Regions from separate parts of the Homo sapiens genome. Here all the other regions are linked to region 3. Evidence: fine-mapped expression QTL. A gene starts in region 3. Each other region holds a variant in brackets. All regions are shown on one strand. Distances are from middle to middle.

Region 1 (5,000 bases), 29 kb after region 3:
TCAGCTCCCTCAGACATATTTGGGATCCAAGGATATTTTCCCAAATGATTAATGCTAATTTCATATCAATACATTTTTGCAAAACCTACAAAAATGGACTAGTAAAGAAAGACTCTTAATTTGGGAAAGACAGTTACTTGGAGAGAAGAGAAACTTAAGAGGCAGGTCGAGTTCAGTGTTCAGAAATGAGAGGATCATAAAGAGATAGCCATAAAAATGTTTCTCCCTATATTGCCTGCTGATAGGGTGTATCAGTGAAGGTCTTACTAAGGACCTTGTACCTTTTCAGCGCTGCACTGCGTGCTCATAGGGAGGAAAGATAAATCATGTGTTTTTTCTGACCTCAAAGGAGCCTGTATCTGGCTAGAGAGACATGATGCAGACACATGAAATAATTAAGAAACAATTAACTGTAGCAGGTGCTGAAGAATATACCAGGAGGTCAGAGAATGGTAGAGCTAGTGTGGGCGAAGGTATAGCCCAGAGCATCATCAGATGATTCTTCCTTATGCAAATTCACATCTCCTCTGGGTCAAGTATCATCCTGGCATGCAGCAGCTCCATAGGTAATGCCCTAAGGCTAGCCTGAGGCAAGTTGCAAAAGCCATCATATTGAGTCATGGCCTTTTTTTGTGTGGGGGGAGGGGAATGGCATCCCCTTCCTGTCTGCCAAATCAAGGAATACAGTGCCCTCCTAAACCTGCTTTGTTTTAGTGGATTGTTAAAAAGAAGTGAATGAATTTATGCTTCATTAGGGAAAGGTTACAGTGGAATACTGAGGAGTAAGGGGTATTTCTATTTAACAAATGACATAACTTGAAGGAATGAAATCATAAGGATGGAATTTCAGGCATTAATAAAAAGCTGATGAGAGATACTTTGAGACAAAAGAGCCTTCCCAGTGTAACCGAGATCACAGCACCTACTTCACATACACAGGAAACCAGTCCTATCTGTCTCTCCCATAGAGCAGTAGCTGCCTTGTTTTTCCTCCCTCCTCCATCATTCATTCTAAATCTCCAGTCCTCCACCGCACCTTATCCAAACCCTGATACCCTTAAGTCACAGATGGTGAATCAGTCAAAAGTAGTATTAAAAACTAGTGGTACACAGCTACACCTGGAATGCAGTAAGAAAAATACGGATTTCTGTACATCATCTTCCCTCCCTGCTCTTACCCCCATTTAAGAGTTACAGGGTCAGAACCCAAGAGTCTGAGTTTTTGAAAGTCCCTAAAAATTTTGGATGATCACCTACATTTAGAACCACTGCACTAAGAAGGACAACAAATATGCCAATAAATTCTGTTGCCAAGGAGGTGATTATGCAAGCTGGAACCCTGATAACATGAGGAGAATCCCACAATAGCCAAATAGTCCATGTACTAGTTACATTATAATAAAGCCAAAAGCAGCAGGCCTACCTGACTTTCTCCTGAGGTCTATCATGAGCTTAGAGAGAAGGAACGTGGACATATAGAGGTAGCTCTAGATGGAGAAGGGCACTAGGTGTCATGGAAAGAATCATGTGCAAGAAGTAAAGAGGTGCTCTGAATGTCCTAGCCCTGCTTAGGTGTCTGTGTCCTCACATGAGAATTTATCCACAGTTCTTTCCCGCTGTAACAATCTTTGGTTCCAACTGCATTTGTGAGACAGCAAAAAGCTATGGTCCAGTCTCCTTCCATTGTATCATCTCATCAATGTATTTCTCCCACTACCCTTGTGTGAAATACAAACTTTTTTGGCTTATTGTGATTATGCAAGGTGTATGCCAACTTTTTTTTTTTCTCCACATCTTTCAGCTTTCTGATGGGTAAAAATTTTCCTTATTTTGCTTTAGAAAAATTCTCATTGGCATAGATCTAATTTCAGGGAGCCTCCCTTGAAAGCTAAATAACATTGAGAATTCATGAAAATATAATGTAGAGCATTATGCCTGTTAGCATATTAGTTTAAATAGAAGTGGTTCATGAAAATTTTTGAAATGCCAGACCCTGTCCTGTGTTTTGTATTCTCCCAAATACTCATCCAGATACTGTTCAGAATGTAACATGATTATTTTGAAATAAAGATTTTCCCCTAGTTTTTAAAAAAGTTACTTTATACATTAACCCTTATGTTCCTCTTTGATCAATTTTTCCAGTAGTGTAAACAGTCTTCAGGGAAGTAGATTTCTTACAGAAATTGTCAAGTGGCTCTCTGCTGTTAGCATGGTTACTAATCTTTTGGTTACTTTTCATATTTTTTATACTTTCTGGAAGTGGACAACTTACTTGTAAATAAAAGTGCATAATTTGTATTAAAAATTTTTAGTAACAATCTAATTTGTAAAATAGATGTGAGCAGCATGAATGTGTGTGATATGCGTACATACGAATTATGTCTCTTAAAAATGTATCACAGACATCTTTCCGTGTCCAAACAAATCTACCTCATTCTTTCTAATAGCCATATGGGTATACCATAATATATTTAACTAGGCCCCTATTAAAAGAATTTTGACTCTTTTGTAGCTACTATAGTGTTGCAGTGTGTATCTGTGTATGTATCTTTGTGTGTGTATCTTTGTACGAGTGTACATATATTTTCCCCTTGGCTATTTCAGATTTTTTTTTAGGTTTAAATCTTAGGAAAGGTTTTGAAATTGTCTTAAGTATTTTCAGAAGCATTAAATCATGGTTTTTTTACATTTTTCTTTTAGAAGTTTTATGTCATCTCTATGAGTAGCTTTCAGTAATTTGTTCTGCATAAAATTCCCGAAAACTTCCATTTAAAAATAGGTGGCATGACT[A/G]GACTTTCTCAGCCGAAAGAGTGAGGTCCCAGGAAGGATTTTGGAGAAGCTGTGTTCAAATATAGCTGCTGACCTGATGTCTGCCTAGAGTCTGGCAAGGTGATGTGTTGAATCTAGTGTCTGCCTGCATGCCAGCATCCCTTTACTGATGAGATTTGTGGTTTTCATCACTTCATGGTAATCATCCCAAGTTATAAGATGGAGTCTCTAGAAAATCAGTAGAGTATGAAGGCCCAAGTAAAATACATGTGAGTGCATGTATGTGTGCATACAAATTACTTCTCTTAAAAACGTATCCTGGGCATTTAAAGAATGAGGACCTCCGAAGGATTTTGTGGAAGCTGTGTTCAAGTACAGCTGCTGAGCGTATGTCAGCCTGGAGCCTGGCAAGGTGAAGTGTTGAATCTAGTGTCTTTTTGACTCACTGTTTTTTTTGACTCACTGTGCTTTGAAGCCCTTGTCATTTGGGCTCATAAAATAGATTTCTGTATACTGTCTCTCCTCCCTGCCCTCGCCCCCATTTAAAAGTATAGTGGCAGAACCCAAGAATCAGAGTTACTAAAAACTCTCTAGAAAATTTGGATGATCACCCACCTGATCATGTCTTTTTTACTCACTATGTTTTTTTTTTTTTTGAGACAGAGTCTCGCTCTGTCGCCCAGGCTGGAGTGCAGTGGCATGATCTTGGCTCACTGCAAGCTCCGCCTCCCTGGTTCACGCCATTCTCCTGCCTCAGCCTCCCATGTAGCTGGGACTACAGGGCCTGCCACCGCGCCCGGCTAATTTTTTGTATTTTTAGTAGAGTCGGGGTTTCACTGTGTTAGCCAGGATGGTCCCGATCTCCTGACCTCGTGATCCACCCGCCTCGGCCTCCCAAAGTGCTGGGATTACAGGCGTGAGCCACCACACCCGGCCCTTTACTCACTATGTTTTTAAGCCCTTGTTTTCATTTGCTCCACTGTAAAACATTCCCCAAGCCAATCTGGAGCTGAGGCAAATTTTTAACAATTTAAAATCTGGGGAATATAAATATTGGATAATGATCATCCTGAAAAAACAATGAAGGTAGTAGCATAATACTTTATATATCAATAAAATGGCAAAATAAGACAGTTGTTGAAGGACAGAAAGAGTAACTGAAGTTAGGAGCTTATCTTAACACATTTTTTGTGTCATACCATAGGCATCATATTTTTTAAATTTTTTTTATTTCATACACATAGGAAAATATATGTGTGTAAGAAATAATAAACACCTCTTTGTACCTACCACCCAACTTAAGGAACAGCTCATTGCTATTCCCTTTGGTGCTCGCTGGATGCCCTTTCCCAGTCACATCCCCCTCCCTTCCCATCTGCAGGACTATACTAGTAAATTTTGTATTTTTTGCATTATTTTGCTTTGTTTTATGATTTTACTACCTATCTACATATCCCTAAATAATACATTATTTAGTTTCATATGTTTTAACTTTATGTTGTGGAATCACATTAAATGTAGTCTTTTTTTTTTATATTATACTTTAAGTTCTAGGGTACATGTGCACAACGTGCAGGTTTGTTACGTAGGTATACATGCGCCATGTTGGTTTGCTGCACCCATCAACTCGTCATTTACACTGGGTATTTCTCCTAATGCTATCCCTCCCCTAGCCCCCCACCCCCCGATAAATGTAGTCTTTATAACTTGTTTTTTTAACTCAACATTGTTTGTAAGATTCATCCATGTAAGCTGAAGCTTTTTTATAGAGATCTTTGTTAAGCCTTTTAATGAATACAGTACATACATTTCTCTGTTCCCCTGTTAGTGGACACTTGGATTGTTTCCAGAGTTTTGCTGTTTTGAACAACGCTGCTGTGAAAATGTCTCCTGAAACACATTTATAAGAGTTTTTTTTTCCCCAAGGGAATTATACCTAGAAATTGAATAACTAGATCACAAGGCATACACATCTACAACTTCTGCTAGGTAATGCCAAATTGTTTCCAAGGAGCGTTAGAAGTGTTCTCATCAACTTTTACTAGTGCTAGTCTTTTACATTTGTGGCAGTATGGTGGGTGTGAAATATTTATGTTTAGTTTTTCTTGGTGCCATTTAATAATTTTTATAAAAAATATTTAGAAGTCAAGGCAGTTTTTTGTTTTTGTTTTTATTTTTTGCTTGTTTTGTTTTAATGCAGACATTGAGATTACGACTTGGAATAAACATTG
Region 2 (7,928 bases), 280 kb after region 3:
TTTAGACCTTCTTCAATCCCATCTGTCACATGCGCCTGCAATTTAAAAGGATTAGGAGTCTCCCTGTAATGTGTGTGGTGTACTCTTTATTATGTGCTGTGATTTTTATGGGAGGGAAATTAGGTCATGACGAAGAGCTCCTAGTCTACAACTGCAAAGTAGCTCTGAGACAATAAATCAACAGCAGAGGCCTGGGGATTACAAAGCAAAACAGAAAGGTTTATACGAGAAATGAGACTGAGCATTTTCTCGAGACACAAATGTACCAGGGTCCCTAGTAATGTGGGATTGGTTTGTTTGACGCATTAGGAAAGTAGACCTACAACAGTTGAGCACAGCTCACTCCTTCTCATGACAGACAATGGGACCGAGGACTGCGTGGTGCTCTCAGAGAAGCCATAAACCCAGCACCTTCACAGTGGAAGCCAGGCAAGTCTTAGCAGGGCTTATGTATTGTAACTGTTAAGAAGCCAAATTCAGAGGCTGTAACTGCAGAGGTTTTTTAAGGACAGTTGGAAGTCCTATGTCCTGTTGATATCAGCATTTTGGCAGAGGGATCAACAATTTAGAAAGTAGTTTGGGTAGTTGTATTAAAAATCTCTCAAAAGGAACCAATTACATTAGTAACTGAGGGTATATATAGACAGCTTGGGTAATCCATGGAGAGCTGTGATTTTCCATATCTCCAGAAAGATTCTATTTCCTGTTCTCTTTGCTGACAAAGATGGATAGATTAAAATACAACAACAATCTCCACCTTTATTTGAGTAATATTAAAGGAGCTTCACAATTCAAACAATTATTGGTTTATCTGGGATTTATTGGGGGGAATATATGTGTTCAAATGCACAACCTACCTTATCACATTAATGAAGAGTATCTTACACAGCACTTGTCACTAAAAAAAGAAAATAGCCCTGTGGCAGAAGCATTCTAGCTCAACACCCAAGTAAATCTAGCTTGCTTCTGAACCCTAACAAGGAGAGGAACAAAAAGAGTACAAGCAAGAACCATTGGAAGGGAAGTCAACAAAAAATTTAAAAATAAAAATTGATGAACAAATTACAAAAGCCATGACCACAGGACAAGATTAGCTTCCTGAGCAGGCAAGAGTACCAATGACTATTTCAACATAGTGAAGCATCCAGTCATACCTTTTTATTAATTTTGCATATCAACAACTGTTTGAAATATCAAAGAAATAAAATGCGACTTCTAAACACCTGTCAGTTGCCAAACCAACTATATTAACTAATGTACATTTTGTGCACAAAGTCCAGAACTAGTCCAATGGATTTCAATGTCACCAATATTTTGGTAAAAGCAGATCAAGGCAGATTGGTGGCCCAAATCAACTCAAATTGAGCTAACTACATTGTAAGTCACTAGCATTTTATTGGGAATGCGAGGTTGCTTAGGATTTAGTGCTTAGTCCAGGTGTTAAGTGGGGGTCATCCATGATTGCTAGCTCCTCTCCTTGACATCTGAGGTTGAAAGTTAACACATTAAAAAGGGGCACCGATCTTTGGGGATTTCTGAGAATTAACAGCTCAATGATCAACACTCCCACCTCTTCCAAAGCTAACTGATGGACTAGGGAAGGAATTATTATAACTTATTTTGTCAAACATTAATAGGCATCAAAAGAGGCAATGCTGGCAAAAGCCTGTGGTACATAACACATGAACACACACATATCCTGCTCCATGTACAGAAACCGTTTCGAGTGCCACAGCCACAAGACACAGCATGGATTGTTACAGAACAAGTGCAATCCTACTATTATGTGTTGGAATTTAATAGCAAGGGGACACACACACACATACACTAAGTAGCCTGAAATTTCATGTTGAACCAAAACTATGAAAAGCAAGCAGTTTGTTTTCTTGATATGGTTGTCCTTCTTAAACATCTAAAATTGTCATAGTCATTAGCAAGTAAGCGTTTAAAACACTAAGTAAAGGGAAAACCTTGTAATAAATATAATTTCTGGGCTTTGAGATCTTGGACCATGACAGCATTCAATATTTTGTTTGAAAATCTTAGCTGGAAGCATAAAAATATTGGTTGCTTTAACCATAACCTTAAGTTTTTGCCTACTTTATGTTTTAAGACTCAGTGTGATAAGGTGTGAGTTTGGAGAAAAGATTCTGTTCATACGGAAATGGTAATTTTGCATAACTGACTGCTACCTTAACATAGCGTGGGAAGAGCCAAAATCTTTGCCATCTGAGCTTTCAACTCAGAAACTTGACTGTAGCTAAAAAGAGCTACACCATCAAATCTACTCTTTAGTTCTCATATAATTCAAGGAGAGTCCACGGTAAGGAGTCACTAATAGGAAATGATGCTATGAGCTAGTATTTCCCCTTAGGAAGTCTGGCAAAAAGAAACAAATTAAGAATCTCTCTCTAACCTCCAAGCAAAGCCTGTAGGTCAAAGGTGACACTATCTGAGCTGCAAGTTTAGAACAGTATGGTTAACTCTATTGTGTTATTTGTTTAATGTGTGATTTTGATGTCAGCAATCAAAGTACTATTTGGTTCAGCTTCCAAGGATGTCTTTCTAAAGTGCTGACATAATCATTTTAGCCTCCACTTGGAAACTTCTGAGAGCTCCCAGTTTTCAGAAGTCAGTTCAAAACCTTTTCCTATAGTTTTCAGGACCCTTAGCAAATGGACTGAATCCAACTCTCTGGCATCATCACCCACTACTTGCTAACAACCCACAGTCTTTCACAACCATGCCATTTTAATACAAACAACTTGATTAATGCTGCTCCTCTGAGTGGCTGTCCCTCCTATCTCTACTCTTTCTCTGCCTAGAAAACTTCCATTGATCTGTCAGAGCCCAATGCCAGTAGAATTAAATTATTTATCCTCAGTGATGCCATAACACTTTATTCATCTTACTGGAGGTCATTTAGCACACTGTATTATAGTTAGTTCTATCTTGATAAAATGGGAGTGCCTTGAAAAATGAAGGACCTATTTTACTTATCTTTGGCTAATGGTAGATATTCAATAAAATGCTTACTGCACTGAAAAGAGATTAACTAGAGTAGATTTTAATAGCTTGGGTTCTGAGAGTAGTACTAAGTTCAACCCCTGTTCCTCTCCTAATCAGCTGCTTCTTAAAGTGTCTGCACTTCAGGCTTATAATTTGTAAAAACAGAGCTAAAAATATCAATTTTATAGGGTTGCTGTGAAAATTGAATGATGGATATAAAGCTGCTTAGCACAATATCTTGTAAACAATAAGCTGTAAGTAAAAGTTAGCTATTACTATCATCATTATTATTTCTGGACTGTATTCATTTAAAGGATTCATTAATTTTAATTGAGTAAACAATCAGTATGTATTACCAACATGGAAAAAGAAAAATTTCCATGAGCCCCCAAACATAATATCATATCTCCTAGCTGTTTTCCTCTCTGTCTCCTCCTAATCTAGGATATTTATTTCCCAGAATTGTGCCAAACACTGCTTCCCTCCCAGGTCCGTGAGAGAGGTGGAGGACAGAAGTTCTGGACCATTGTGACAGGGTAAGCATGTCGTTAGTGCACTCTATCTGACCAAACACAAGTTGTGTGTGAAACACATCACTATGGCTCCCAGGAGGAAGATATAGATGGATTCTCTGGGTTGGGGGGAGAGGGTGTTTCTAGACTTGCAGGTACTATCTTGAGGATGTGTGGGTGTGAGTGACAAAATAAAGGAGATCATGTTCACTATTAACCCTCAGCTGAATGTCTAATGTTAACCCTTGGAAAACAACAGAAAGACAGGTAGGCAAAGAGAGAAAAGATTGTATGCCTTAGCTAGTTAGAACACAGAGGTCTCTTACCTTCTATTGAAAAAGAGGTGTTTTACCAGGTTAAAGAAACTGAATTACCCACTTCTCTTTCCTTTTTCTTTAATGCCAATCTTAAAAATGTTTTTCCAATTTTAGATATTTATGAGTTGGTTCTCCATACCAAGGCTCACAAAGGGCATTTAAGGGCTGAAATTGTCACTACCACCAGATGCCTGAGGCTCCTGGTTGAATAAAAAATGGCAATGCAGAGAGGAGGCGGAAAAGCACTCTCCATAAAAACACTGGGTTGCTACCCATGCTCAGCACAAACCACTGATAAGAAAGCAGAGTCATTCCTAAAGGGAACTAAATGCAAACTTGCTGGGTACCATAG[A/T]TCCCCTGCAGAGATAACGGTCAACAATCCTCCCACGCCTGTGTGCACACACTGCTCCTCCCACCCAGAGGTGGCATCTAGCTCCCCCTGCCTTGAATCTGGCTGGACTTGTGACTTGCTTTGGCCAACAGAATGTGACAGAAATGATACTTTGCTCCAGGCCTAAGCCTTAACAGCCCTTGCTGCTTCTGTGTTTGCCCTCTTGGAACTTGGGGCTGGACTCCTGAATGATGGGACAGCACCTGGAAAGAGGGGGGTCTTGTGGCAGAGGATCAAGGCATTCTGGTCAACACCTAGTACCAAAGTCCCAGCTGTGTGGAGTGAGGCCACCTTGGACCCTCCAGTCCCAGTCAAACCAACCCAGCTGATACCACAAGGGGCACACATAAGCCCTTCTCAAATTTCTGACTCACAGAATTGAGAGTAATAAAATAATTGCTATTTTAAGTCACTAGGTTTGGAGATGATTTGCTATATAGCAATAGAAAATTAAAACATCTCATGGCTCTCTTCGTCTCTCCGTCAATGGAGTGGCTCCAATGGCTAGATGCCTAGGTTTCCACACCTTCTTTTCAGTGCTATGTTCCATTTATTCCTAGAGCCCTCCTAATGATTATTCCGAAGCACAAAGTAAATACCTTATATAAGATGTTAACAACATGAGAGAATACTGTGCTAGTCGCTATGGGGGGTATATACTTTAGCCCTGTAGTAGGGCTTGTTTCAAGCAAACTTGTTTCACATGAAAAGGTGCTGCTGGAAAGCATTTCTTCAAATAGGGTTTCAGGATTTTGTCTAACTTTTGACACTAAGACTAGACAGAAGAAGAGTCACCCCTAGACATTGTGTGTTTGTGTGTGTGTGTGTGTGTTTCTATTACAGAAAATTAAAGCCAAGTCTAAGGAAATGGTTGGTAAGTATTAACTAAGACCTTAAATACTATGAAGTTTTATGTTCTAAAACATTTTATTTATTTATTTTAGATGCAGGATCTCACTGTCACCCAGGTTGGAGTGCAGTGGTGCAATCATAGCTCACTGTAACCTTGAACTCCTGGGCTCAAGTGATCCTCCCACCTCAGCCTCCCATAGCTAGGGCTTTAGGCATGTGCCACCATATCCAGCTGATTTTTCATTTTTATTTTTTGTAGAGATGGGGGTCTTGCTATTTTGCCCAGGCTGGTTTCAAACTCTTGGCTTCAAATGATCCTCCCACCTTAGCCTCCCAAAACACTGGGATTACGGGTGTGAACCACTGTGCCTGGCCAACATTGTGGATTTTAAAGAGTAAGTCTCCGACAACATCCTTCTGAGGACATAAAATTGCTCTGGATTTGATGGTTAAAGTTAAGTTCTATTGGCAGGGAGTTTATACAAAGTGTTATCTCCAGAAAGCCAGAGGCCAGAGCACAGCCACGGATGCTTAGAATTGCTGTGAGTTGAACACCACAGACTTCCAAAAAAGACTGAGGGAGCATCTCCTTACTTCATACCAGGCTAGGCCTGAAGCTACAGTGAAAAAGGAGTCAAGATGGCTTATTCCAATTGCTCTCACAAAGACGACAAACCCTATGAATATGAAGGATGACCTTCCCAGAGTAATGTACATGTTCTGTTCTCAGAAGTCAAATACCATGACTTTGGCAATATTCTATTGATCACATAGGCTAGCTCTATTCAGAGGTGGAGGGGGCTACACAAGGGAATGAACACTGGTGGACAGGATCACTGGGAGCCATTTTGGAGGCTGGCTGTCACATTCACCCAAAACCAATGTACTAGTGCCTACTGAGGAACAAAACACAACGTCCCTGCTTTCCTGAAGCACACATGCTTGAAGAGGTCAGAAAGCCAATGGATCTAATCAGTAAGTAAATTTTATTACATGCCCTATAATTTGTGAAGTCCTATGTGTTAAATAAAATTGATAGGAGGCCACTGGTTTGGACTGAGCTCCTGCCCTAGGCTCAAGAGACCAAATCAAAATGCAGTTACTTCTGCTGAAGTTCTATGCCATCAAGCCAAAAATAAGTTGTTTGTCTGACCTTCCAATAAATGAGGGGAGAGATAACAGGCAAATCCCCAAACAGGCCAGTTTTAGTCAGCACTGAAGGAAGTCCCCTCTGCTTTAACTTTTACAAGGAAAGTAACTTCAAAACAATTAATCTGCTTTTTGTTCTCTTCTTTAGCCCTTTTCTGTCTATAAAGCCAACCTCCTCTGCTCAGCTCCTGGAATATTCATTCTATTTTACAGAATGAGGTGTTGCCCAATTCTAGAATCGCAAATAAAAGTCAATTAACATCTTTAAACTAAACTTGTTGTGATTTTGTCTTTTGATATGAAAACAGACTAAGTGGAATAAAAGGAAAAGGGAATGCAGGAAGTTGGGATTATAATTTTAAACAGAGAGATCTAGGTAGGCTTCACTTAGTACACTTGAAGGAAGGGAGAAGTATGCCATGTGGTTTTATGGAAGAACAGTGTTCCAACCACTGGGAACAGCAACTGCGAAGGCCTTGAAGTAGGAATGTGCCTGTGGTGTCCAAGAAACAGCAAGGCAGAAACAAGATGGCTATAGGAGAGATGCAGGAGACGAGATCAGGTAGTAACAGTAAAAGGACAGAGACTATGTGGGCAAATGTATGAAATGGGAAGCCACTGGATAATTCTTAGGAGAAAACTGATACCATCTGGCTTAACATTAAAAAAAATCTCATTCTGGTGGCTGGTATCAGAATTGTCAGGCCAAGGGTACAAGAAAGAAACAAATTAGGAGGCTCTTGTAAAAAGTCAGACAAGAGGTAGTGGTGGCTTACAACATTATCAGTGTACGTGGTGAGGCATGGTCAGATTCTGGATTTATTGTGCATGATTAATTTGCCATTCTAGGCAAAGTTTTTATTTAAGAGAAACAGCATTTTTTATTAGATTCCAGATTTGTTGCTGCCAAATGGTGCTTTAGGGAACCCTGCACAAGTTCTGAGAAGCTTCATATGGATTTGCTCATAAGAGCAATGAAGTGGGTGAGAGGACTGCAGCTTTATGTCCCCTCCCCAGTTTTACAAGGGCAGCTCTGCGTTAATATTCTTCAAATTGGGGGATGAGGAAAACCTTCGAAAGAAAGACTAGGAACCCCAATTCCCCAAAAGAAAAGACAGACCATAAAGACACGCGCACACAAACGGTACAAAAAATACAACACCATTTATAAAACTGAAAGACAAACTATAGGTCAAAATATTTGCAACACAAATGAAGAAAGTTTAATATCCCTAAAATTTAAAAAACTCATAAATTCATAAGAAAACAATCAAGTAAGAAATGGGCAAAGCATGTTTCCAAAATGAGGTTCATAAGAGTACTTCCTTCATTGAATTGTTGTGAGGATAAAATAACAATATACATATAAAGTATTTAACACAGTTCCTGGCACATAATGCTCAATCAATTTTACCCACCACTGCCACCACCATAACCATGGCTGTTGTCATTGTAACTACCACGGTTGACACCTTTACCACCAACCTTACATTATCATCACCACCATCACTACCACCACCAGCAACTTCATCGTCATGACAGTGTAAGAGTGATTAGCAATGCAAATCTGAGCCAACTCTGAAGGTCAATTCCAATGCAGCTTCCCCCCAGGTACATTCTTCACTGCAAGTGATCAATTACATATTACCTTTTCGTGGTTTTCTATTAGGATCTCAATGACAATGTTCTGAAATTTGA
Region 3 (7,835 bases):
CCTAACTTGAAAATCTGAATTTTGAAGTGCTCCAAAATCCAAAACTTTTTGAGCATTGTTATGATACCACAAATGAAAAATCCTACATGGAAGTACTTACCACAAACTTTGCTTCATGCCCCAAATTATTTTAAATATTGTATAAAATTATCTTCAGGCTATAAGGTGTATATGAAACAAAAAATGAATTTCCTATTTAGACTTGGGTCCCATGGCCGAGATATCTCATTATAATGCAAATATTCCAAAATCAGAAAAAAAAAAATCCAAAATCTAAAACACTTTCAGTATTAAGCATTTCAGGTCATGGATACTGAATGTGTATCTTTAATTTCTTGTTCTACTTTGTTTAAAAAAAAGGGGGAAAATAGTAATTCTACAGATGAATAATAATTGCTAATGATGAGCAAATACTTCCTATGACCCAGGAATTCGTCTAAGCACTTCACATATATCAAACTGGTTTAATCTTTATAAATCAGTACTATTATTATCCCCATTTTACAGATGATGGAAAAAGGCACAGAGAGTTAGCCTGCCCAAGGTTACATTCCTTTTAGTGGTGGAGACTGTATTTGGCCTTTATAGTCTGGCTTTTAACTGCTACACTATATCAATGCATTACAGGTATAGTTTATACACACACTAAAGAAGACATGGAACTCCAGTCAGTGGGCTCATAAAAGCTTTAGACCTTCATCAAAAGATTAGAAAATAAATGTTCAATCACAGGTTTTAGGTTTCAAAAGTTTCAAAAGTTTAAAGTTTGCAAGTTATCTTTCTTAAAATTATTTCCTTCTTTTAACTAATTTTTAAATTAAACTCCAGTTCAATCACATCCACTAGAAGGCTTCACTTTCTACAAAGGGGTAGGTAAAGGTGATGATCTTAAATACCATACTGGGAGTTGGGATCTGTGTAGCACTAGAATCAAGAGTTATTGTATATACTTGAGAAGGAGCACAGCCTGATTTAGTTGATGTTTTGGAGGGGTAATCTGGCAGTACAGCTTGGATTATTTTAGTGGGAATGGAGATGACAAAACATGAAGAGAATGGGAGAACTCACTTGGGTAATATATCAGTTTCTGAAATCAATGTATCAAGTGGTTTGGTTATTAGTCAGGCTTAAGGTTTTATTGGCCTTAGGACATAGTCTCTAAGACCATATATTATCTTCATTCATTCATTTAACCAACACCCACTGAGCACCAACTATGCACTAGTGATACAGGGGTGAACAAACAGACACAGTCCCTGCCTTTGCAGAACTTATGTTCTGGTGGGTGATACAGAGAAATAACAAATGAGGGCACAAATAATGAACTATCATTGTAATGTGCTAACAAAGTATGCAGAATACTATAAGAACATACAATCAAGAATCTAATCTAGTTTATTTTAAAAAAAAGTGGGGGGAGCACTCAGATGTTTAAACACAAAACAATAAAAATGAGGATCTTGAGGGTTATCTGTACACTTTTTATTAACCCATTTGGCCACAACAATAACCCAGTAAAAGTGATTTTACATCTAGTTAACTAGTTGACTCAATGTTATTATAACCCTGTAATGTATTTGTTGGGTGCCTGCTATGTAGTGGGCTGTGTTCCAGGAGTGGGACATAAAGCTATGACAAGATAGATCAGGTCCTTGCCTTGACTGAGTCTGAATACATCACCTTCATTTCCACCTCTGCTTCTAAGACAATCAAATACCTTCCCACTCAGATAGGGATTCATCCTATTTCTTGTAGTAATTATAAGTTCCCAGGGTTACAGATTAGTAAATGCCATACCTAAAGACTTAGGATACTGTGCATAAAACACTTTCAATAGTGTCTGTCAGACAGCAGATGCGCAATAAATGTTGACTTTCGTTAGAATTGTGTTATTATTATAATGCTAAATCTCACGTCCTTTCTGGCACACTGGAGTTCATCTCTTCAATTAAATTCCGTAAGCACATATTGTAAGTAGTCTATCAGAATTGATATACTACTTCATGTTAATGATTGAGATCAGTGAGGAAAACCACTTTAATATTGTCTAATTCCTCTCTTAATGCATAGGAGCCATGTGAACTTAGACAAGCATCAACCTCTGTAAGCCTGTTGTCCTCATATTGAAAAATCGAATAACAATACCTATCTCATTTAATTGTTGTCAGCAAAAGTGGGCAGCAGAAGAGTGGGGATCAATAAATGTTAGCCACAAATCATAACTATTTGTATTACTCTGAAAAAGAGGGGTTAACTTATAGTTCATGCATGCTTCCAAATGAATGTGAAAGACTAAAGAATGAGAATTTTTTTGCTATCAAATTAAAAAATTAACAGGCACATTTAGATTGCTGAAGAGAGAAATTAGGATAAGTTTTTTTTTTTTTTTGCTCAATTAAAAACGTTTTCAATGGCATATTTAAAACTACGTATTCTTCCCCATTAAGATCTGCAGAGAAAAAAAAATGAAGGGAGAATAATTGGGAACTCTTGTGAAATCATAAATTATTTAAGCAGAGTACCTACCACTAAGGATTTGAGCATGTATGAGCGATGAGGTGGATTCTTAGAGCAGAGATTCAGCAGTGAGACAGGCTAATGGCATGGGGAGATGTGTTCTATTAGACAACTGTATTGTCCCCTTAATTATATACATATATATGTATATAATATATATGTGTATACATATGTATACATACATGTATATATAAATAGAATTCTTAATCATTTTAAGCAGTGTACAAGGATAATTATTAGCATGGGCTATTTAACTCACTTTTAAAACGTGTAAAACATTATTGTAGGGTTGGGTCTTGATTTGTTTCCCATGAAACTGTTGGTAGTTTAGGGGCCAAATTAACGAAAGACATCTCATTCTAGTGCTTGAGGCTCAGAAATTGGAAAAACGGGCAACTAGGTCAAGCAGTGTTCTCATAGCCTCACAGATGAGCATCCAAAGCAAGGGCCTCCTTCTAGTTGACTTGTGCCAAGGGACAGGAGAAGCGGAGTCTGCCTTCTGGGTCCAGAAGGGGGTTTTGTTAACATGGAGTTGCTCAGCGCCCTTCATAAAAATTCTTCTGGCTGAGGGTTCTACGTTGGCATACGGTTGGTTCCCTCTTCTTTTCCGAGGTGGCGAGTATCTCTTCCTTTGCCAAGATGGCGGCTCCAGAATCCTCTGGAGGCGGCCCCCGTAGATCGTCTCCGGACAAGAGGCTTGCTGAAAGCCTACTTCTTTCCTTTCACATCAGACAATGCACAGGGAACCGTTTACCCTTGAGAACCAAGGAAGGACGGCTTAGGCTACCCGCGATCGCGAACCTTTGCCAAGATGGTGGCCGCGGGGACGGGCTGGCGACACTGTACCCTACCAAGATGGCGGCGGGCGGCTTCCGGGACGCGCTTCCCCAATCGTCTTCAAGATGTCAGAGCAGGGGGAGCCGCCGTCAGTCTGAGCGCGGCGGGAGGTGAGAGAGTGGCTGTGGCCGAGCGCCCGAGCAGGATTAGGTGGAGCTGCGGCAGCCCCCGCCCGTGTCAGGAGCTGGCAAGCGATGTCACCTGTGGGGGCGCAAAAGTTACCTCCCCAAACCCTAAACCCACACAGCACAACCTTTCCCAGAGTCACAAAAATCATAATCTGTGCCGCACAAGGTAGGAGGCTCGGTCCCGGCATCGTCCAAGCCTTCCCGACGCGGCGAGCTGGGGAAGGGAGCTGGGGCGGGGGCTTCCCGCACGGGCACCCCTCGCCCCACGGCCCTCTCCTTTCTCAGGACGGACCACGAGTTCCCTTCCCCTTGGACTGAGGGGGAAGCTCCTAACAGGAACATCTGTAGGGAGTTGAACGCTGGCATTTTAAAGCTGCCTGTATTTTGTTTTATTTGTAGGGGCAGGGGTCCTATGAACGTGATAGGGTGAGCAACGCACAGAGTCGAGGGCAGCAAATGTCAAGATTCGGGGGTGGGGCCTGCACCGGGAACTTGGACGCGGGCCCTGGCCGGGGTGGAAGAAGAGGTCAGGAGTTTCGGAAGGGGGGCTATATTTCGCCAGCAACTTACTATTTCGCCTGCAACTTGCTTTTAAGCCTGCCGCCCCCTGCTTTCCTTAATCATAATAATAAAAAAAAAGTGCAAAGAAATCCAGCTCGCTGGAGGTTTTGCATTTGGCGTGCAACTTCCTTCGAGTGTGAGCACATTGGGCGGGAGGGGTGGGGGTTGAACTTGGCAGGCGGCGCCTCCTTCTGCCGCCGCCGCCGCCTCGCAGACTCGGGGAAGAGGGTGGGGGACGGTCGGGGCGCGGGGGAGGGTGGGTTCTGCTTTGCAACTTCTCTCCCAGTGCGAGAGCGCGGCGGCGGCAGCTGAAGACCCGGCCGCCCAGATGATGCGGTGGTGGGGGACCTGCCGGCACGCGACTCCCCCCGGGCCCAAAGTACGTATGCGCCGACCCCCGCTATCCCGTCCCTTCCCTGAAGCCTCCCCAGAGGGCGTGTCAGGCCGCCCGGCCCCGAGCGCGGCCGAGACGCTGCGGCACCGTTTCCGTGCAACCCCGTAGCCCCTTTCGAAGTGACACACTTCACGCAACTCGGCCCGGCGGCGGCGGCGCGGGCCACTCACGCAGCTCAGCCGCGGGAGGCGCCCCGGCTCTTGTGGCCCGCCCGCTGTCACCCGCAGGGGCACTGGCGGCGCTTGCCGCCAAGGGGCAGAGCGAGCTCCCGAGTGGGTCTGGAGCCGCGGAGCTGGGCGGGGGCGGGAAGGAGGTAGCGAGAAAAGAAACTGGAGAAACTCGGTGGCCCTCTTAACGCCGCCCCAGAGAGACCAGGTCGGCCCCCGCCGCTGCCGCCGCCACCCTTTTTCCTGGGGAGTTGGGGGCGGGGGGCGAAGCGCGGCGCACCGGGCGGGGCGGCCACGCCAGGGGACGCGGGCGTGCAGGCGCCGTCGGGGCCGGGGTGGCGGGGCCCGCGCGGAGGGCGTGGGGGCAGGGACCGCGGGCGCCCCTGCAGTTGCCAAGCGTCACCAACAGGTTGCATCGTTCCCCGCGGCCGCCGCGCGGCCCCTCGGGCGGGGAGCGGCCGGGGGTGGAGTGGGAGCGCGTGTGTGCGAGTGTGTGCGCGCCGTGGCGCCGCCTCCACCCGCTCCCCGCTCGGTCCCGCTCGCTCGCCCAGGCCGGGCTGCCCTTTCGCGTGTCCGCGCTCTCTTCCCTCCGCCGCCGCCTCCTCCATTTTGCGAGCTCGTGTCTGTGACGGGAGCCCGAGTCACCGCCTGCCCGTCGGGGACGGATTCTGTGGGTGGAAGGAGACGCCGCAGCCGGAGCGGCCGAAGCAGCTGGGACCGGGACGGGGCACGCGCGCCCGGAACCTCGACCCGCGGAGCCCGGCGCGGGGCGGAGGGCTGGCTTGTCAGCTGGGCAATGGGAGACTTTCTTAAATAGGGGCTCTCCCCCCACCCATGGAGAAAGGGGCGGCTGTTTACTTCCTTTTTTTAGAAAAAAAAAATATATTTCCCTCCTGCTCCTTCTGCGTTCACAAGCTAAGTTGTTTATCTCGGCTGCGGCGGGAACTGCGGACGGTGGCGGGCGAGCGGCTCCTCTGCCAGAGGTAAGAAGCGAGGCGGGAGGGGGCCGGGGCGCGCTCGCTCCCCCGAGGTGCCGCTGGGACCGGAGACAACTCGGGGGCCGCCGCGGGAGCCTACAAACTTTTATTAGCCTCGGGGAGTGGGGGTGGGGGGCTGGCAAGGGCCGGGCGACGGTGACGAAAGGGCAGCGCGCGGGTGACAGCGCTGGCCTCTTCCTCTCCCTCCGCAGGCGTCCCCTGGCCGGGCCGAGGGGGAGGAACCTGACCTCGGACGGCGAGCGGAGCCCTGTCGAACTGCCGGGGGCTTCGAGCCTCTCATTCCTCGCGGGAATCCTGGCCTCTTTTCTCCCCCTAGTGTCCCCTTTCCCTCCAAGGGGGTCGCCCGACACCCGTTTTCGTGGTGAACGCTAAGCCGCGTCTGAATTTTACTCGCCCGAATATTTGCACGCCACCCCGGCGCGCCCGAGCGCGAGCCCGGGCTCCGGGGAGGCCCCGGCGGCGCCTGGCTTGAGGAGGGCGTGCGGGGCGCGTGAGGGTGCACACGCGGGGGGCTGACAGCCCGCAACTTGGAGACTGCGGCCGGGGCCGGCGTTATCTGTTAGAAGTGGGCGTGTCGGAGAGAGAACTCAACAGGTCTGGACGTACTTCTCTTTTAACCTCGCACTTTTTTCTCTTCTCCACCCCCGCCCCGCAAGGGCTTGCTCTTTAGCGTTTGTTGTTAATTCGCGCCTGAGGTTTCTAAGTGGCCCCTTTTAGAAAAAGACCCCCTGTAACCGTAATGGTTTTGTGCTGCGATTTTTACAAGTGCTAGTTTGACGTTTGGGGTTGCAGACTTGATAATTGCAACCTTGTAATACCACTTAAGACCCTCTGGCATGGTTCATTAGGGCCAATTAATGTGGCTGGGTTATTTGCAACTTAAACTGGGGGATAATGTCGCTTGAGGGAGCGTTTTCGTTTTAGGAAATATTGTTTTGGTTTCGGGTTTGAAGGCAGCTGTCAAAAAAGCGGCATGGAAATTCATTGGGCTCCATTCGATACCTCGTGTTTAGAGATCGTTATCGCCTCAGATAAACGGGGCAGAGAGGTGGGGAGATAAGCAGTTTACCCTCAAGATTTGTAGTGGCAAGTCCACACCCCTCTCTCTACCTTCATATTCACTTTTCAGTGAGGGCCAGTGACATTTATGCTGCCTAACGTCATCGCATAGGAAAAGTTACCTTTTATTGGACGGGATTTGACTATAGTGTCCCAAATGCGCTTCTCCGTCTTAGCCCATCTCTTAAAACACCCTGATTAACGATATACTAACAGTCTTACTCTCTTGAGAATAGGCTGAGAATTGGGATAGGTGAAGGTTTGGATAGGTGAAGGCAGAGAAAATTATTTTGAACATTTTACTGGATACAGTTGTACCTGAATTTATATGAATGTGATTTTACGGTTCTGTGTTTTTCCATTTTTCAGTACTTCGATATTTGTTTGGAAAGGAAAGAACTTAGAGATGTAATAGCATTTCATATTGAGGATCTCAAGCAATGTAAACAAATGTAGCTTAATCTAGATGTTTTTGTGAGTTATGATAAGGGTCAGCTATATTTAAGTTATGTAAGCTAACAACGTAGTGAGAAACTACTACACCTTCTCTTCTGCTCTTTAAAATCTAAATTTTAGTTGGCCTATATAAAGTGTATCTCATTTCATATATCCAAAATTTGGAGGTAGGCACATCCAGTCAGAAGTATGGGTTAAAAAGCCTTTTCCCAGCCTGTCGGAAGATAAGCAGATCAGCATTGTTTATTTTTCAAAGAAAACGTGCATGGTTCACCAGTTGGTTGTACTCAAAGGTTTGGATGTGTGACTAGCTGGTAGGAGGGAAATTTGGAAGTAATTAGGGATTGAGAATTCTAGCATAGTATTTATCAAATGTTATATGTATTGGTTCTCAGAAAAGCAAACAGCCGTGATTGAAAAGAGGTAGGAATTTTAATGATCACACTTCCTTTTTTTGAAATTAAATACTTTGACATCAACTTGAACCTTCAGAATAATCAGATGTAATGAATTATAATGTCTGTGATTAACAAAGCTACACGTTCAGTGAGCGGCAGGATGAATAGCCAAGCTTAGTTCGATACACTTTTGCCCTCAGCTGTGCAAATGGATTGCATTGTACTTTTAAATGTGGCATGCTGAATGGGAGCAGGGGACATGGCTTTTTATTCTGGAAGATAGAAACTACTCTTCTGGTAACAAAGAATTTGATTCGGAG
Region 4 (7,376 bases), 130 kb after region 3:
ATAAACACTGTTGTTGAAGCCTTCTATCTATCTCAGTACTAGAATTAAACTCAAGTGCAGAATGGCAGACAAAGTTAACTAAAAATCACTGTATTATTTCATTTGGTCCTCCAAATAGCTTTGTGAGCTAAGGAGGAGAAGGTGTATCATCACCACTTCCATTTTATAGATGAGAAATCAAGTGATTTACTCAAGGTTAAGTCCTCCAATTCTTTGTTATCCTGCATTTTCTCTTGGCTGTAGTTTAATTAATAATCCTAAGAAAATGCTTATATTTTAGAGTGCAGTAAGAGTACATAAACAATGTTAAATGCCCATCTTGCATGTATAAAAAGTTATAGCAAGAAATCTGGCTGGGAATGGTGGCTCACACCTGTAATCCTGGCACTTTGGGAGGCCGAGGCAGGAGGATTGCTTGAGCCCAGGAGTTTAAGACCAGCCTGGGCAACATAGGGAGATCCTGTCTCTACAAAAAAATTTAGCCAGACACAGTGGCTTGTGTCCTAGCTACTCAGGAGGCTGAGGTGGGAGGATCACTTGAGCCAAGGAGGTCAAGGCTCCAGTGAGCTATGATTATGCCACTCAGACATGGTGGCTTGTGCCTACAGTCCTAGCTACTCAGGAGGCTGAGGTGGGAGGATCACTTGAGCCAAGGAGGTCAAGGCTCCAGTGAGCTATGATTATGCCACTGCACTCCAGCCTGGATGACACAGTGAGACCCTATCTATCTCAAAAAAAAAAAAAAAAGAAAAGAAAAGAAAAAGAAAATCCTTTAACTGACTTCATCTTAACCTTTTAGTTCCTAAGGACGGTCTGAAGAGCCAAGAGCTATTTGATGAAATTAGAATGACCTACATCAAAGAGCTAGGAAAAGCCATTGTCAAGAGGGAAGGAAACTCCAGCCAGAACTGGCAGCGGTTTTATCAACTGACAAAACTCTTGGATTCTATGCATGAAGTAAGTGTCAAACATAAAGCCAAATATAAGAGTTTTCTGGGACAAAGTATGTTTTGATTAGTGAATATAATTATATACCAGCAGCGCCCCCACCCCCGCCCCCAGTTTGTGGATGTTGGTGATAGCTTGAGTTCAACTTATGAACTTCAGTTTTGTAGACATTTTTCCTAAGGCCAATTATGAAATATCCTTTCACCTAGTCATGTGTATATAAAATCACCATGTTATTACAGAATTTAGTAATACTGTTTTTAAAAAGTATGATTAATCCATTAAATTAGAATAATGCACCCTTCATATATTATGGTACTACAGTGATTCATGAAATAATTCTATATAATTCTACATACAATCAAAGAAATATAAAATGTGTTTTGTACGGAAGTGCTTATTTTTCATCTGGGGAATTCCAGTGAGATTGGTATATTCTAGGCCAGATAATTTTTTCAAAATAGAGGACAACAAACATGAGATGTTCCCACTGACCAATTTGGAAGCCTGATCATTACCATATCTTCTCTTGCAGGTGGTTGAAAATCTCCTTAACTATTGCTTCCAAACATTTTTGGATAAGACCATGAGTATTGAATTCCCCGAGATGTTAGCTGAAATCATCACCAATCAGATACCAAAATATTCAAATGGAAATATCAAAAAACTTCTGTTTCATCAAAAGTGACTGCCTTAATAAGAATGGTTGCCTTAAAGAAAGTCGAATTAATAGCTTTTATTGTATAAACTATCAGTTTGTCCTGTAGAGGTTTTGTTGTTTTATTTTTTATTGTTTTCATCTGTTGTTTTGTTTTAAATACGCACTACATGTGGTTTATAGAGGGCCAAGACTTGGCAACAGAAGCAGTTGAGTCGTCATCACTTTTCAGTGATGGGAGAGTAGATGGTGAAATTTATTAGTTAATATATCCCAGAAATTAGAAACCTTAATATGTGGACGTAATCTCCACAGTCAAAGAAGGATGGCACCTAAACCACCAGTGCCCAAAGTCTGTGTGATGAACTTTCTCTTCATACTTTTTTTCACAGTTGGCTGGATGAAATTTTCTAGACTTTCTGTTGGTGTATCCCCCCCCTGTATAGTTAGGATAGCATTTTTGATTTATGCATGGAAACCTGAAAAAAAGTTTACAAGTGTATATCAGAAAAGGGAAGTTGTGCCTTTTATAGCTATTACTGTCTGGTTTTAACAATTTCCTTTATATTTAGTGAACTACGCTTGCTCATTTTTTCTTACATAATTTTTTATTCAAGTTATTGTACAGCTGTTTAAGATGGGCAGCTAGTTCGTAGCTTTCCCAAATAAACTCTAAACATTAATCAATCATCTGTGTGAAAATGGGTTGGTGCTTCTAACCTGATGGCACTTAGCTATCAGAAGACCACAAAAATTGACTCAAATCTCCAGTATTCTTGTCAAAAAAAAAAAAAAAAAA[G/AAG]CTCATATTTTGTATATATCTGCTTCAGTGGAGAATTATATAGGTTGTGCAAATTAACAGTCCTAACTGGTATAGAGCACCTAGTCCAGTGACCTGCTGGGTAAACTGTGGATGATGGTTGCAAAAGACTAATTTAAAAAATAACTACCAAGAGGCCCTGTCTGTACCTAACGCCCTATTTTTGCAATGGCTATATGGCAAGAAAGCTGGTAAACTATTTGTCTTTCAGGACCTTTTGAAGTAGTTTGTATAACTTCTTAAAAGTTGTGATTCCAGATAACCAGCTGTAACACAGCTGAGAGACTTTTAATCAGACAAAGTAATTCCTCTCACTAAACTTTACCCAAAAACTAAATCTCTAATATGGCAAAAATGGCTAGACACCCATTTTCACATTCCCATCTGTCACCAATTGGTTAATCTTTCCTGATGGTACAGGAAAGCTCAGCTACTGATTTTTGTGATTTAGAACTGTATGTCAGACATCCATGTTTGTAAAACTACACATCCCTAATGTGTGCCATAGAGTTTAACACAAGTCCTGTGAATTTCTTCACTGTTGAAAATTATTTTAAACAAAATAGAAGCTGTAGTAGCCCTTTCTGTGTGCACCTTACCAACTTTCTGTAAACTCAAAACTTAACATATTTACTAAGCCACAAGAAATTTGATTTCTATTCAAGGTGGCCAAATTATTTGTGTAATAGAAAACTGAAAATCTAATATTAAAAATATGGAACTTCTAATATATTTTTATATTTAGTTATAGTTTCAGATATATATCATATTGGTATTCACTAATCTGGGAAGGGAAGGGCTACTGCAGCTTTACATGCAATTTATTAAAATGATTGTAAAATAGCTTGTATAGTGTAAAATAAGAATGATTTTTAGATGAGATTGTTTTATCATGACATGTTATATATTTTTTGTAGGGGTCAAAGAAATGCTGATGGATAACCTATATGATTTATAGTTTGTACATGCATTCATACAGGCAGCGATGGTCTCAGAAACCAAACAGTTTGCTCTAGGGGAAGAGGGAGATGGAGACTGGTCCTGTGTGCAGTGAAGGTTGCTGAGGCTCTGACCCAGTGAGATTACAGAGGAAGTTATCCTCTGCCTCCCATTCTGACCACCCTTCTCATTCCAACAGTGAGTCTGTCAGCGCAGGTTTAGTTTACTCAATCTCCCCTTGCACTAAAGTATGTAAAGTATGTAAACAGGAGACAGGAAGGTGGTGCTTACATCCTTAAAGGCACCATCTAATAGCGGGTTACTTTCACATACAGCCCTCCCCCAGCAGTTGAATGACAACAGAAGCTTCAGAAGTTTGGCAATAGTTTGCATAGAGGTACCAGCAATATGTAAATAGTGCAGAATCTCATAGGTTGCCAATAATACACTAATTCCTTTCTATCCTACAACAAGAGTTTATTTCCAAATAAAATGAGGACATGTTTTTGTTTTCTTTGAATGCTTTTTGAATGTTATTTGTTATTTTCAGTATTTTGGAGAAATTATTTAATAAAAAAACAATCATTTGCTTTTTGAATGCTCTCTAAAAGGGAATGTAATATTTTAAGATGGTGTGTAACCCGGCTGGATAAATTTTTGGTGCCTAAGAAAACTGCTTGAATATTCTTATCAATGACAGTGTTAAGTTTCAAAAAGAGCTTCTAAAACGTAGATTATCATTCCTTTATAGAATGTTATGTGGTTAAAACCAGAAAGCACATCTCACACATTAATCTGATTTTCATCCCAACAATCTTGGCGCTCAAAAAATAGAACTCAATGAGAAAAAGAAGATTATGTGCACTTCGTTGTCAATAATAAGTCAACTGATGCTCATCGACAACTATAGGAGGCTTTTCATTAAATGGGAAAAGAAGCTGTGCCCTTTTAGGATACGTGGGGGAAAAGAAAGTCATCTTAATTATGTTTAATTGTGGATTTAAGTGCTATATGGTGGTGCTGTTTGAAAGCAGATTTATTTCCTATGTATGTGTTATCTGGCCATCCCAACCCAAACTGTTGAAGTTTGTAGTAACTTCAGTGAGAGTTGGTTACTCACAACAAATCCTGAAAAGTATTTTTAGTGTTTGTAGGTATTCTGTGGGATACTATACAAGCAGAACTGAGGCACTTAGGACATAACACTTTTGGGGTATATATATCCAAATGCCTAAAACTATGGGAGGAAACCTTGGCCACCCCAAAAGGAAAACTAACATGATTTGTGTCTATGAAGTGCTGGATAATTAGCATGGGATGAGCTCTGGGCATGCCATGAAGGAAAGCCACGCTCCCTTCAGAATTCAGAGGCAGGGAGCAATTCCAGTTTCACCTAAGTCTCATAATTTTAGTTCCCTTTTAAAAACCCTGAAAACTACATCACCATGGAATGAAAAATATTGTTATACAATACATTGATCTGTCAAACTTCCAGAACCATGGTAGCCTTCAGTGAGATTTCCATCTTGGCTGGTCACTCCCTGACTGTAGCTGTAGGTGAATGTGTTTTTGTGTGTGTGTGTCTGGTTTTAGTGTCAGAAGGGAAATAAAAGTGTAAGGAGGACACTTTAAACCCTTTGGGTGGAGTTTCGTAATTTCCCAGACTATTTTCAAGCAACCTGGTCCACCCAGGATTAGTGACCAGGTTTTCAGGAAAGGATTTGCTTCTCTCTAGAAAATGTCTGAAAGGATTTTATTTTCTGATGAAAGGCTGTATGAAAATACCCTCCTCAAATAACTTGCTTAACTACATATAGATTCAAGTGTGTCAATATTCTATTTTGTATATTAAATGCTATATAATGGGGACAAATCTATATTATACTGTGTATGGCATTATTAAGAAGCTTTTTCATTATTTTTTATCACAGTAATTTTAAAATGTGTAAAAATTAAAACCAGTGACTCCTGTTTAAAAATAAAAGTTGTAGTTTTTTATTCATGCTGAATAATAATCTGTAGTTAAAAAAAAAGTGTCTTTTTACCTACGCAGTGAAATGTCAGACTGTAAAACCTTGTGTGGAAATGTTTAACTTTTATTTTTTCATTTAAATTTGCTGTTCTGGTATTACCAAACCACACATTTGTACCGAATTGGCAGTAAATGTTAGCCATTTACAGCAATGCCAAATATGGAGAAACATCATAATAAAAAAATCTGCTTTTTCATTATGTGACTCCAACATGCTTTTGTAGAACTTGTACAGTTCCGATTGTCCAATCTGATTTTTGTTTACTGAAAGTAGAGTTACCCCTGCTTCAGGAACCTTAAGATAATATGGTGGGCATTTAAATGTCAGTGTGGCAATGTTCGCCTGCTAATATGGCATAGATTCAAAATAAGCTTAACCCTGGTGCCAAAGACCTGAAGATTATCCCATCCATGCCTCAAATGGTTGTGTGCCAATTACTGCAAAGGGTACTAAGGGAAGGAGAAATTCACTCCTGAGGCTGCTTCAAATGTATGTCTTTATCACAAAAGATGACATTTTATGTAAGCTAATGTTATCTAGTCAAAATTCTTAGCTTATTTTAAAATCAACTCTTCAAGAAAAGGAATAAACATTTAATATAAATATCATAGCAGTATTGCACATAGAATAGAAAGGTCGGGCAGGGTAGTGGAAGTCAGCTATTCTATACAATCCATTCGGTATTTTCCAAAACATTTGATGTTCAGGCCATATCCAGGAACTGGATGACCTAACAAACTTCTCTGAGTACCTTTTTTTCCACAAGAGATCTCCATCACTAAGAAAAAAAGCATTGTGATTTAAAAGCCAAATTTGCCTTATCCATCATCATGTGCACCAAGTATTTGCTACCTGCCTACTATATAATATTGAAGATACAATGTGAATAAGAAAAATACTATTGCTACCCTCAATCAGAGTATGTGATTGGAAAAGTGTATAACAAACCTTTCCCAGTGTCTTCAGGTATAATGCAGAGATACCAGATACGGCATCAATGTGTATACACATTATGGCTGTACCATTCACTTTAAGTAGTAACCTTACATTTCTGTAGAACACCTTCACATACATTTTTAACAAGCCTCACTGAATGAATTAATGACATGAAAATAATGAGGCAGATTATTCTCGTTTCCATTTTATAAGGAAGTAAACTCTGTAAGAAAGTAAACAGGCTCAGAATTTAAGCACTGATTCATAGCCCCTAGCTCCCATGTTATTGAAATTTGAATGGAAAGCCTCTAATGAGGCCATTCATCTATCAGATGTCAAAGAGCATGTCTCTGGCCTATGAGCCTCTCAGGGAACTGGTTATGTTTTTCTGTTTTAAATTAAACTAATGCTTTACTGAGCACTTACTATGTGCCACGCACAATGATAATTCAATATATTATTTCATTTAATCATAGTACCCCTCTAAAGTACTACTGTAAAGCAGTGCTATTATCCTCATTGCATTTATATCAGGAAACTGTGGCTTAAAGAATTGAGTAACTTGCCTACAGTCACAAAGCTAGCTCCAGAATCCATAGTTTTAAAAACCACTATTGAGAAATTACTAATATGAGCTAACTAGGGCGAATGAACCCATATTGATCATTATGTGTCTGGCCTTTTGACATGTCCTCATTTAATCTAATCCCTTTTGCTACCGTATCAATTTTGACTTAGAAATTTAACAATGATACATTAGTCCCCGCTTATCTACGGAGGATATGTTCCAAGACTCCCAATGGATGCCTGAAACATAGATAGTACTGAACTGCATGTTTTTTCCTATATTACATACCTATGATAAAGTTAATTTACAAATTAGATGCAGCAAGAGATTAACAATAACTCAATTACAACAATATACTGTAATAAAAGTTATGTGAATGTGAGCTCTCAAAAAATCGTACTATACTGAGGGTAACTGAGACCACGGAAAGTGAAACCGCAGATAAGGCGGGCACTATTGTATTTCCTTCTCTTAAAA

What was found. PIP is the estimated chance that this variant, and not a neighbour inherited with it, causes the effect. A credible set is the group of variants that fine-mapping cannot tell apart.
Region 1: its variant is the best candidate, but not a certain one, in a credible set for the expression of NR3C1 in whole blood (INTERVAL, PIP 0.80).
Region 2: its variant is the best candidate, but not a certain one, in a credible set for the expression of NR3C1 in whole blood (TOPMed, PIP 0.60).
Region 4: its variant is the best candidate, but not a certain one, in a credible set for the expression of NR3C1 in whole blood (INTERVAL, PIP 0.89).

The regions. Positions count from the first base shown.
Region 1 is chr5:143,372,916-143,377,915 of GRCh38, reverse strand. The region is part of intron 2 of NR3C1 (nuclear receptor subfamily 3 group C member 1); the gene reads left to right. Among named protein-coding and RNA genes, the nearest start is that of NR3C1, 28 kb to the left of the region's middle. The variant A/G (reference allele first, on the strand shown) is at 2,791.
Region 2 is chr5:143,121,098-143,129,025 of GRCh38, reverse strand. It overlaps ARHGAP26 (Rho GTPase activating protein 26), which reads right to left. Exons shown (of 23, transcript NM_001135608.3): 18 at 7,879-7,928. LOC124901098 (a long non-coding RNA gene) reads left to right here and starts at 3,454. Exons shown (of 2, transcript XR_007058980.1): 1 at 3,454-6,056; 2 at 6,379-6,499. The variant A/T (reference allele first, on the strand shown) is at 4,191.
Region 3 is chr5:143,400,963-143,408,797 of GRCh38, reverse strand. NR3C1 (nuclear receptor subfamily 3 group C member 1) reads left to right here and starts at 5,112. Exons shown (of 9, transcript NM_000176.3): 1 at 5,112-5,587. It overlaps LOC128966704, which reads left to right and starts at 237. Exons shown (of 2, transcript XM_054328421.1): 1 at 237-3,464; 2 at 3,882-4,132. The coding sequence starts at 3,157. The coding sequence ends at 3,912. RefSeq lists enhancers at 2,907-2,956, 2,677-3,443, 3,277-3,516, 3,917-4,056, 4,097-4,166 and 1 more and silencers at 4,217-5,486, 5,727-5,806, 6,017-6,116.
Region 4 is chr5:143,276,149-143,283,524 of GRCh38, reverse strand. It overlaps NR3C1 (nuclear receptor subfamily 3 group C member 1), which reads left to right. Exons shown (of 9, transcript NM_000176.3): 8 at 800-957; 9 at 1,484-5,591. The coding sequence ends at 1,636. Among named protein-coding and RNA genes, the nearest start is that of ARHGAP26-IT1, 87 kb to the right of the region's middle. The variant G/AAG (reference allele first, on the strand shown) is at 2,406.